Homo sapiens: one gene and its partners. The protein of the gene in region 3 purifies or fractionates together with the protein of the main gene of each other region. This does not show direct contact. Each region holds a gene or a part of one and is shown on either strand. Other genes may lie near its edges. The genes, in order: NUP133, NUP85 and SPAST.

The links.
Region 1: the proteins of SPAST (region 3) and NUP133 purify together in Homo sapiens (affinity purification with mass spectrometry; 4 studies listed by BioGRID and IntAct, with this or other methods). This does not show direct contact.
Region 2: the proteins of SPAST (region 3) and NUP85 purify together in Homo sapiens (affinity purification with mass spectrometry; 4 studies listed by BioGRID and IntAct, with this or other methods). This does not show direct contact.

Annotation. Positions count from the first base shown.
Region 1 is NC_000001.11:229,487,742-229,491,493, reverse strand, and holds part of NUP133 (nuclear pore complex protein Nup133), read left to right. Parts: intron 1-1,391; coding exon 1,392-1,539; intron 1,540-3,752. UniProt on the Homo sapiens protein: Involved in poly(A)+ RNA transport. Involved in nephrogenesis.
Region 2 is NC_000017.11:75,222,656-75,226,407, forward strand, and holds part of NUP85 (nuclear pore complex protein Nup85), read left to right. Parts: intron 1-2,447; coding exon 2,448-2,582; intron 2,583-2,686; coding exon 2,687-2,809; intron 2,810-3,042; coding exon 3,043-3,174; intron 3,175-3,367; coding exon of another isoform or gene 3,368-3,395; coding exon 3,396-3,502; exon of another isoform or gene 3,503-3,503; intron 3,504-3,752. UniProt on the Homo sapiens protein: Essential component of the nuclear pore complex (NPC) that seems to be required for NPC assembly and maintenance. As part of the NPC Nup107-160 subcomplex plays a role in RNA export and in tethering NUP96/Nup98 and NUP153 to the nucleus.
Region 3 is NC_000002.12:32,115,523-32,119,274, forward strand, and holds part of SPAST (spastin), read left to right. Parts: intron 1-179; coding exon 180-313; intron 314-596; coding exon 597-690; intron 691-3,752. UniProt on the Homo sapiens protein: ATP-dependent microtubule severing protein that specifically recognizes and cuts microtubules that are polyglutamylated.

The DNA of each region.
Region 1 (3,752 bases), on a different chromosome or scaffold from region 3:
TAAATTTATTTTAGAGATATATGGTCTCACAGTGTTGCCTAGGCTGGTCTTGAACTCTTGGGCTCAAATGATCCTCCTATCTCAGCTTCCCAAAGTGTTGGGATTACAGGTGTGAGCCATCGTGTCTGGAGGTAAAACTTTTTTAAAAATGTTTTTCCTCTGGACAAAAGCAAGTAAGCTTTAAATAACTGAGTACATCAGGGATTGGCAAACCTTTTCTGTAAAGGGCCAAAAGTAACTGTTTTAGGCTTTGGCGGCCATGTAGTCTTTACTGCAACTACTCTATTTCACCAATGGTATCATGAAACATCCCTAGAAAATACATAAATAAATGCGTATGGTTGCCTTCGAACAAAACTTCATTTATAAAAACTGGTTTGAGATCAGTTTCACTGGAGGGCTGTACTTTGCCAATCCCTGGATCAGATGGTTGTTTTGATCTTTTTTTAAAGTCAGATTTATTGAGCTATAATTTATATAGAGTAAAACTTACCCTCTTTAGTTTATAATTCCACAAGTTGTTTTTTTTTTCTTTTTTTTTTTAAGATGGGGTGTCACTCTATCGCCCAGGCTGGAGTGCAGTGGTGCGATCTCAGCTCACTGCAACCTCCACCTCCCGGGTTCAAGAGTTCTTCTGCCTCAGCCTCCCAAGTAGCTGGGACAACAGGCATGTGCCACCATGCCTGACTAATTTTTATAGAGATGGTTTTGCCACGTTGGCCAGGCTGGTCTTGAACTCCTGATCTGAGGTTATGTGCCCACCTTGGCCTCCCAAAGTGCTGGGATTACAGACGTGAGCCACCGCACCTGGCCCTAATTCTACAAATTTTGACAGATACACAATTTAGTCATTTAACCGTAACAATCAATACAGAACAGTTTTATAACCCCCCAAATTCCCTTGTGCTTTCTGTAATCGACCCCTCCATCCTCTAGCCCCTGGAGATCACTGATGTGGTTTCTGTCCCTATATTTTGCCTTTTGCTTAATGTCATAGAAATGGAACATACAGTGTAAAGCCTTTTGAGTCTGGTTTCTGTCACTTAGCATAATACACTTCAAATTCATTCAGTATTTTTTTTTTTTTTTTTTACTACTGAATAGTGTTCTTTTGTATGGATATACCACAGTTTGTTTATCTATTCAGCACTTGGAAGACATTGGGTTGTTTTCAGTTTTAGGCAATTATGAATAAAGCCACTACAGTCATTTGTACACAGGTTTTTGTGTGAACACAGTTATTGGTTTTCTGTTTCTGTTTTTAAATTTTCTCTTGGATAGGTGTCCACGAATGGGATTGCTAAGTTATATGGAAGCATATGTTTAATTTTATAGGAAACTCCTAAGTTGTTTTTTAGAGAGGCTTTACATCTTCCTTTTTTATTGATTAGTGATGGGCTGGTGATTTTGGCAGCAGCATGGCACTCAGCAGACAATCCATGTCTCATCTATTACTCTCTGATAACAATAGAAGATAATGGTTGCCAAATGTCAGATGCAGTTACTGTAGAAGTCACTCAATATAATCCACCTTTTCAGGTAAGATTTATATTGGTTAAATTACAAAGCAATAATATGTTGAGTATTTTTCTAACCATTTCAGGGTCTTATTTATTTATTGAAAGAGTTTTGCTCTGTCACCCAGGCTGGAGTGCAGTGGCTTGATCTCAGCTCACTGCAACCTCTGTCTCCCCTTCCAGGTTCAAGTGGTTCTCCTGCCTCAGCCTCCCGAGTGGCTGGGACTGTAGGCATGTGCCACCATGCCCAGCTAATTTTTATATTTTTAGCAGAGACAGGGTTTCACCATGTTGGCCAGGCTGGTCTCAAACTCCTGACCTCAAGTGATTCCCCCAGCTTGGCCTCCCAAAATATTGGGATTACAGGTGTGAGCCACCTTGCGTGGCCCATTTCAGGGTCAAATTTCGTGACAGATTTCATCTGCAGGGCTTGGAAATATTTTAAAATAGCTTGTTTCTAGACATTGTTGCATTTTCTTTGCCATCTCAGGCTTGTTCTTTTGCTTAGTTTTGACTAAAGAAAAATGAGAATGGAAGCAACTAGCAGAAAGCAGTTTGTTTCTTCTGCTCTAGATCTTTGGAGGGATTGTCATGTCTGTATTTAGGTAGAAAGAAGGTATTGATTAATTCCAGGGTGAAAGTAAGGAAGAAACCAAGCTGGGCATGATGAGTACATGCCTCTAGTCCCAGCTACTCAACAGGCCGAGGCAGGAAGATCACTTGAGCCCAGGAGTTTGAGGCTGTTGTGTACCATATTCACACCTGTGAATAACCACTGCATTCCAGCTTAGGCAACATAATGAGACTCCATCCTAAAAAAAGAAGAAAAAGAAAAAGGAAGGAAGAAAACTGGTAGGAATTAGGGTTTGGTTTAGAGCCTTGTATACTATAGAAAAATCCTCCTTTTTACCCAAAGGAAGATTATATTTGTATTCAGCAGTGTTCTGTAGTCATCAAAGTTCTTGTAAATGACTGGAAGACAGGCTTTCCAATTTTAAGTTCATTAATAGCAATTAAACATGTTTAATAACTGGTATTCATGAGGAAGAACCTGAACATCTATAAATTCATTTTATTTACTCTTACATAGTATCTAATTCTGTTAAATCCTTGTTTGTTTATTTTTTGAAGAGATAAAGTCTTGCTGTGTTGCTTGGACTGGAGTGCAGTGATATTCACAGGTCCATCAGAGTGCACGGTAGCCTCCAACTCCTGGTCTCAAGCAGTCCTCTCAGGTAGCTGGGATTACAGGTGTGCACCACCGTTCCTGGCTTAAATTCTTACTTTTTTTTTTTTTTTGATCCTTACTCTTAACATGACTTGTTTAATTGAATCCTGTAAGAAAATCTTTTGATTTGTTCTTTTATGCCAAACAGAAATAAACTTTATCATGTGTTCTGATTATGCAGTGTGGAAAACATGCTCAGTGTTAGAAAAAATTTCAGCCAGGGCAGAAGACTATAAAGAGAATTTGAGGATTAAAAAACAATTCTAGGACCTCGCATTTAATATTTCTGTAAAATTACTTCTTTAATAACAGCTTATCATTTTTAGCATATTCTAATTTTATTTAATGAGATTTATTTTTATTTCTCCCTCTGATTTTATATGTAAACAAATCAACTAAGTTTTCTTGTCATTAATATCTTGGCAGTAAGGTAAGAACAAAAATGTTTGTTTATCAGGGAATATTTATAAAAAATTGCCAATTCTTAATATAACGAATTTTAGTGCTTTCATTTTCTCCTTTGAATTTATCATAGGCTTCTAGTTATAGTCATCATCATGGAAATGTTTTCCAAATTTGTTAATTTTGGAAATTAACAATTTAGGCCAGGTGCGGTGGCTCACGCCTGTAATCCCAGCACTTTGGGAGGCTGAGGTGGGTGGATCACCTGAGGTCAGGAGTTCAAGACCAGCCTGGCCAACATGGTGAAACCCCATCTCTACTAAAGATACAAAAAAATTAGCCGGGCATGGTAGCATGCACCTGTAATCCCAGCTACTTAGGAGGCTGAGGCAGGAGAATTGTTTGAGCCTGGGAAGCAGAGGTTGCAGAGAGCCAAGATTGCACCACTACCCTCCAGCCTGGGCAACAGAGTGGGACTCTGTCTCAAAAAAAAAAAAAAAAAAAAAAATTAAAAAAGCAAATTATAAGCAAGTCAACAAAATATATGTCTAATTGATGTTTATAAACTTACTCTGTCATGTTTTGTTAATCATCTCATGGGTAGT
Region 2 (3,752 bases), on a different chromosome or scaffold from region 3:
CAACCAATCAATATATAACCGATCACTTGTTTTATGTGTGTATCTGTTTGGAGACAACTTACTTGACATAATATTGTTGAATCATTAACAGTGAAGTCAGCCAGGCGCAGTGGCTCACGCCTGTAATCCCAGCACTTTGGGAGGCCGAGGCGGGCGGATCATGAAGTCAGGAGATCAAGACCATCCTGGCTAACACAGTGAAACCCCGTCTCTACTAAAAATACAAAAAATTAGCCAGGCATGGTGGCAGGCGCCTGTAGTCCCAGCTACTCGGGAGGCTGAGGCAGGAGAATGGCGTGAACCTGGGAAGTGGAGCTTGCAGTGAGCCGAGATCGCGCCACTGCACTCCAGCCTGGGCGACAGCAAGACTCTGTCTCAAAAAAAAAAAAAAAAAAAAAACTCAGGGCCAACAGCACTATAATTCGTGTCTGAATGAAGCTTATCTAACACCTCCCATAGTTCTTGCACTTAGCAACACTAGAAAGCACTTCAGTACTACACGTGGGGACCCAAGAAAATGTACAAAAATGAAAAAAATGTGGCACTAACTGCATCACGAGAAAGCCTTGTTTAGTGTGTGTCAAGCAACTCAATATTCTTGCCACTCTTAATTTTGATTTGAAAGTACCACAAATACTGATTTGGGGGTTACAGATAAATTTTAGTGAGTAGGCAGATTCACAGATAAAGACTGAACAGTGAAGACTATTTGCATTGAGTGTATATTTTATGTTATGTTATGTTATTTTTGAGATGGAGTCTCACTCTGTCACCCAGGCTGGGGTGCAGTGGCGTGATCTTGGCTCACTGCAACCTCTGCCTCCCGGGTTCAAATGATTCTTGTTCCTCAGCCTCCCGAGTAGCTGGGACTACAGGCATGCACCATCACGCCCGGCTAATTTTTGTATTTTTAGTAGAAACAGGGTTTCACCATGTTGACCAGGCTGGTCTTGAACTCCTGACCTCAGGTGATCCACCCGTCTCGGCCTCCCAAAGTGCTGGAATTACAGACGTGAGCCACCACGCCTGGCCTGAGTGTATTTATTTTACATATTTATATTTGAACTGAAACTTTTATGAACCATTTTATTTAATGCATTCTGATATTTTATATTATTTCATTTTAATTTTTTTCCAAACAAAACTTCTCACATATTTATTATTGAACCAACCTACTATTGTAGAGCTTATAATCAGAGAAAAACCATTTTCTCAACAAAGTATGTCCACCTTTCCAGATAGTGGTGACAGTTTCAGCTTGATGTGATAAGATGATAGTCTTACGTGTAGACTCATCTCATGTGTAATTCCTGGCAGACCCAGCTTGGTTCTTCTCCAGTCCCTCCTCTTGGGGTTGTAGCTAACTGTATTAGCAATTTTGTTTTATTTTGTTTTGTTTTGTTTTTTTGAGATGGAGTCTCACTCTGTCATCCAGGCTGGAGTGCAGTGGCACAATCTCAGCTCACTGCAACCTCCGCCGCCCAGATTCAAGCGATTCTCCTGCCTTAGCCTCCCAAGTAGCTGGGACTACAGGCGCCTGCCACCACGCCTGGCTAATTTTTTGTATTTTTAGTAGAGATGGGGTTTCACCATGTTAACCAGGATGGTCTCGATCTTCTGACTTTGTGATCTGCCCGTCTTGGCCTCCCAAAGTGCTGGGATTACAGCTGTGAGCCACCACGCCCAGCCCTGTATTACCAGTTTTAATCTGAATCCACTGGTGAATGGGACGATTTTGCTTTTGTTTCTTGGCCAGGAATTGCATGATCCTGGACATTTTGTGAGAAGATGGTGGGAGAAATAATCAACAGCACACACCATGATGGTGGAGAAGGGGTGGGGGGAAGCAGGTAGAGGAACATGTTTTTCTGTTTCTTTCATTTTTGAAAAGCTGGGGCTGAGCGTGGTGGCTCACGCCTGTAATCCCAACACTTTGGGAGGCCGAGGCGGGGAATCACTTGAGGTCAGGAGTTCGAGACCAGCCTGGCCAATATGGTGAAACCCCATCTTTACTAAAAACACAAAAATTAGCTGGGCGTGATGGCATGCGCCTGTAATCTCAGCTACTCGGGAGGTTGAGACAGGAGAATCGCTTGAACCCGGGAAGTGGAGGTTGCAGTGAGCCGAGATTATGCCATTGCACTCCAGCCTGGGCAACAAGAGGGGAACTCTGGAAAAAAAAAAAAAAAAGGTGGTCACAGGCTATAATGGACTACAGCTGGCTGTTTGAAAAACATAGTGGAGGTGACAAAGCCATGAGATTGGATGTGATAGATTACTTCTGGAGGGAAAGAGCCATCATTCTTCCCAGGGCAGACTCAGGTGCAGAAAGAAGCCTGTGTGTGAAGAGTTAAAAAGCCAAAGTGTGGGGTGAGGGGACTGGCCTCCTCACGCCTCGGCAGGGCCAGGCCTCCTGCCAATGCTTATGGGCCCGGATCTCCTCCCAGGTGACCATCTTGGTGCTGCAGGGCCGGCTGGATGAGGCCCGACAGATGCTCTCCAAGGAAGCCGATGCCAGCCCCGCCTCTGCAGGCATATGCCGAATCATGGGGGACCTGATGAGGACAATGCCCATTCTTAGTGTACGTGGGGGTAGCTTTGCTCTGCTGGGTCACAGGAGATGCGTGATTCACTAAATATAAAGGGTGTGGATGGGATGACGTCTCATGGCTGGTCTCTCCCTTAGCCCGGGAACACCCAGACACTGACAGAGCTGGAGCTGAAGTGGCAGCACTGGCACGAGGAATGTGAGCGGTACCTCCAGGACAGCACATTCGCCACCAGCCCTCACCTGGAGTCTCTCTTGAAGGTCTGGGAAGCAGTTCAGATTGCATCCATGTTGGCTTCCTATGGGGGCTGTGGCATCCAGTGCAGCAGTGGCAGGAGCTTGGTCCTCCTTGGATAGGGCTGTCTGTCGCTCTGCCGTGATGGCGAGAGCTTTCAGACTAGTTGAAATCCGGTGCCCTTAGCTGAGAGCAGGAGCATTATGGAGAAGGTACCCCTGAGAGGAGGACAGAGTTCAGCACAAATGTCTCTCCTCAGATTATGCTGGGAGACGAAGCTGCCTTGTTAGAGCAGAAGGAACTTCTGAGTAATTGGTATCATTTCCTAGTGACTCGGCTCTTGTACTCCAATCCCACAGTAAAACCCATTGATCTGCACTACTATGCCCAGGTGAGTGAGCTCGGGGTGGGCAAGGGTGGGGGTAGGAGTCCTGGGGGCGCCCTGATGGGTCATTCTCTTTGAATTCCTCCCTGAGGAACAGGAAGACCCTTTCCTTTGGCCCTTAGTGAAAGAACAAGGCACCTTCTCTGGGGTTCGTTATACAGCAGCCCTGCCTGCCCCGAGTCTCTGCTTCCGTCCTCAGGATTGAGTGTCTCATCACCTTTCCACAGTCCAGCCTGGACCTGTTTCTGGGAGGTGAGAGCAGCCCAGAACCCCTGGACAACATCTTGTTGGCAGCCTTTGAGTTTGACATCCATCAAGTAATCAAAGAGTGCAGGTAGGATCTCTCCCACCCCCCACTGTAACCATTTTTAGGTGTACAAATATCACCACCTTGCGTTTCTAGAGTGGCCTGTTCCTTCCTTACCCTTCTTCCCTCAGACCTGCTATCTTAGTCCATCTCACGCTGATATTACAGAATACCTGAGACCAGATAATTTATAAAGAAAAAGATTATTTTCTCACCGTTCTGGAGGCTAGGAAGTCCAGGATCAGGGCACTGGCAATGTTGCTGGTGAGGGCTGCTC
Region 3 (3,752 bases):
AATATAGTTCTCTAGTGAATACAGTTTTACCTTCAGGTAAATAAATATACAATTTATGGATTTTTATACCCTTTTTCCTATTTTTAAAGCTTGAATTCTGTGAACTTTAAGGTTAACTTATTTATGAAAAGTGTAAATGTTAGGTTGTATTTTCATATTAAAATTTTGTATCCTTTAAGGGTACTCCGAAAACAAATAGGACAAATAAACCTTCTACCCCTACAACTGCTACTCGTAAGAAAAAAGACTTGAAGAATTTTAGGAATGTGGACAGCAACCTTGCTAACCTTATAATGAATGAAATTGTGGACAAGTAAGTTTTGCCATCTAAATGTTTTATTTTATAGTTTTTATATTTTAATTTTACTTATAAAACATGTCAGGAGTGAAATAGATAATAAATACCTTGTCTGGTTTACATACTTAATTTTTATGATAGTTTTCAATTATAAATGTAGAAAACCATTGCTTTACTGATTTAACTATAGTTTAACAGTTAACATTAAAAATAACTATATGTCATAGGGCTTAGGCTTCATCTTGTAATAACTGGGCCCTGTTTGTATCGTAGAACTAACTGAGGTCTTGTTTCTTAGTGGAACAGCTGTTAAATTTGATGATATAGCTGGTCAAGACTTGGCAAAACAAGCATTGCAAGAAATTGTTATTCTTCCTTCTCTGAGGCCTGAGGTAAGAACTTTATATTATCATTTTTCTATAATACCATCTGTTACTGAATCCATAGTAGTAGTAGTAGTAAAGAAATATTTGAGCTATACTAAAATAATTAATTCATATAAGGTAACAATAGATTTAATGTTTTAAAAAAGATAAAACATTAACAATTGATGTTGAGAAGTTATTATAGAATAGGAAAATGGATATGAGTTCCTAATTTCCAATCCTTTTATATTTTTAGGAAAAGTGGGTAGTATGATATAATTTTGTTTTGTTTTGGAGACGGAGTCTCACTCATTGTGTCGCCCAGGCTGGAGTGCAGTGGCATGATCTTAGCTCACTGCAACCTCTGCGTCCCAGAATTCAAGTGATTCTCCTGCCTCAGCCTCCCAAGTAGCTGGGATTACAGGCATGTGCCACTATGCCCAGCTAATTTTTGTAATTTTAGTAGAGATGGGGTTTTGCTATATTGGCCAGGCTGGTCTTTCATACCTGATGTCAAGTTATCCACCCATTTCGGCCTCCCAGAGTGTTAGGATTACAAGTGTGAGTCACTACATCTGGCCAAATTTTGATATCAAGGTGAGAGAGATTTAAAATTAAGATAAGGTACAAAAATTAGCCTAGTGTGGGGGCGCACGCTTGTAGTCCCAACTACTGGGGAGGCTGTGGCAGGAGAATTGCTTGAACCAGGAGGCAGAGGTTGCAGTGAGCCAAGATGGCACCACTGCACTCCATCCTGGGTGACAGAGCGAGATGTCATCTCAAAAACAAAACAGGCCGGGTACGGTAGTTCACGCCTGTAATCCCAGCACTTTGGGAGGCTGAGGCGGGCAGATCACGAGGTCAAGAGATTGAGACCATCCTGGCTAATATGGTGAAACCCTGTCTTTACTAAAATTACAAAAATTAGCTGGGCTTGGTGGTGTGTAACCCCAGCTACTCGGGATGCTGAGGCAGGAGAATCGCTTGAACCCGGGAGGCGGAGGTTGCAGTGAGCCGAGATCACGCCACTGCACTCCAGCCTGGCGACAGAGCGAGACTCCGTCTCAAAAAAATAAATAAAAATTTAAAAAGATAAATACATAAAAATAAATAAATAATATTAAGAGAAGGAAATCAGGCAGGTAGTGGCCCCTGACACAATGAGTTTTCCCAGAATTGGATTGCTTGGAAATGCCGCTCAAAGAGTGTGGTAAACTCCATCGAAGGCTAAATACCAACGTGACAGTGATAATAAACAAGTACTTTATGGGAAAGTTTTTTTTTTAATTATTTTTAAAAAGAGAGAAATTGTACTGGAGAAAAGAGGAATTCAGGTAGAATAATTCTTTTTTTTTTTTTTTTTGAGATGGAATTTTGCTCCTGTTACCCAGGCTGGAGTGCAGTGGCTTGATGTTGGCTCACTGCAACCTCTGCCTTTGGGGTTCAAGTGATTCTCATGCCTCATCCTCCTGAGTAGCTGGGTCTATAGGCATGCACCCCAACACCTGGCTAATTTTTGTGTTTTTAGTAGAGATAGGGTTTTACCATTTTGGCCAGGCTGGTCTCAAACTCCTGGCTTCAGATGATCCGCCCACCTTGGCTTCCCAAAGTGCTGGGATTACAGGCAGAGGCCACTGTGCCTGGCATGAAGAACAATTTTTAAAAGAATGACTTTTAAGGATATTAAGTCATCAAAGTAGATAGAGCCATTAAATGATGGGTAGAAACCTAATCTTCCATCCCATATTTTATGACTTATTAAGGAAGATAGGCAATCTTGCAGTTGATAATAAATATTTGGCTTTCCATACTTAGCACCGTTTTGAATTTTTCCAGTTCACAGATGGTATATTTAGTGCTGTTCCAATAATATTGCAAAAAATAAATCTGAAGACTCACTTCTGGGTCACAGTTATTTCACTATTAACATTAAAATCTTACGGACCTACCTGCAACATGTAGTGGAAATAAGTTGTGTGGCACGTTGTGGTGGGTGCATTATTAAATAAATGTGCAAAGGTTTTATGGCTGTCTCAATTTTTCCATAGTCTTGAGTCATTCACATACTGCCTTTATGGTGTTTATCACTTGTAAGTGAGTACCAACTGTACTAGAACTTACTGAATATTTTTCAAGTCTATTTTACTTATTACTCATTCTAAGTACATAAAATCACTGGTCTGATATGCAAGTTAGGTTTTCGCTAATACCCAGTAAAATAATTAGATAATTATTAAAATAGAAAGCATTTGTCATTATGTGAACTGGATTTATGTCATGTACCACCTCAGGTCACACTTTGGGAAACGTAGCTTACGTATTGAGCTAACATTTTGCTGGAGTTATATAAGATTAGTAAATGCTATAGACTAAATATTGAAAAAAAAGCTTGCTTAAAGAGGATTTACATAATTGTAGACCTGAAAAGGATCTTAGCAGTCTTCTGATCGATTCATTGATAAAGAAACTAGTCCTAAGAGCTAAAATGACTTGCTCAAGATTTTAGTTAAGTGGTAGACCTAGGAAATACCTTTCTAAGATTAGAGCTGCCTGGTTAGTGCTATAGCTGCCACCTAATTCTTACATTTATTTATTAAGGGACATGCTTTTTACGGTAGAAAAATATATCTAAAATTGTGAAGGTAATACCAAGGAAATATTTAGGCTATGCAAGAAAAGTCATTCAGCTTTTGCTTTACCCAGGCCTATAGAGAACATATCTAAAATAATAAGTAACATGTGAATTTGAATTTAGGCATATTTTCATGGTAGTGACATAATGTGCAATTAAGAAGCTATAATAATGTAAAAATGCCAGTTGCAAGTTATTTCAAATAAAGTTGAATAACCTGACCTCAGGAGGGGCAGAAACCTTAGTAAACTTAGCAAACTGAGACCTAAGGAAGAGCAAGATCTGTGGTAGAGCCAGGTCTAAAGGTTTATATCCTGGTACAAACTTGTCTATACATCACCACACCTGCCAAATGGAACTTTTTTTCCTTGTAGTTCAGATTTCCAAGAAAGGGAATATTATTGTCCTAGCTCAGCGTTTCACAATAGACTCACAAAATGAATCTTGTTAAGCCTAT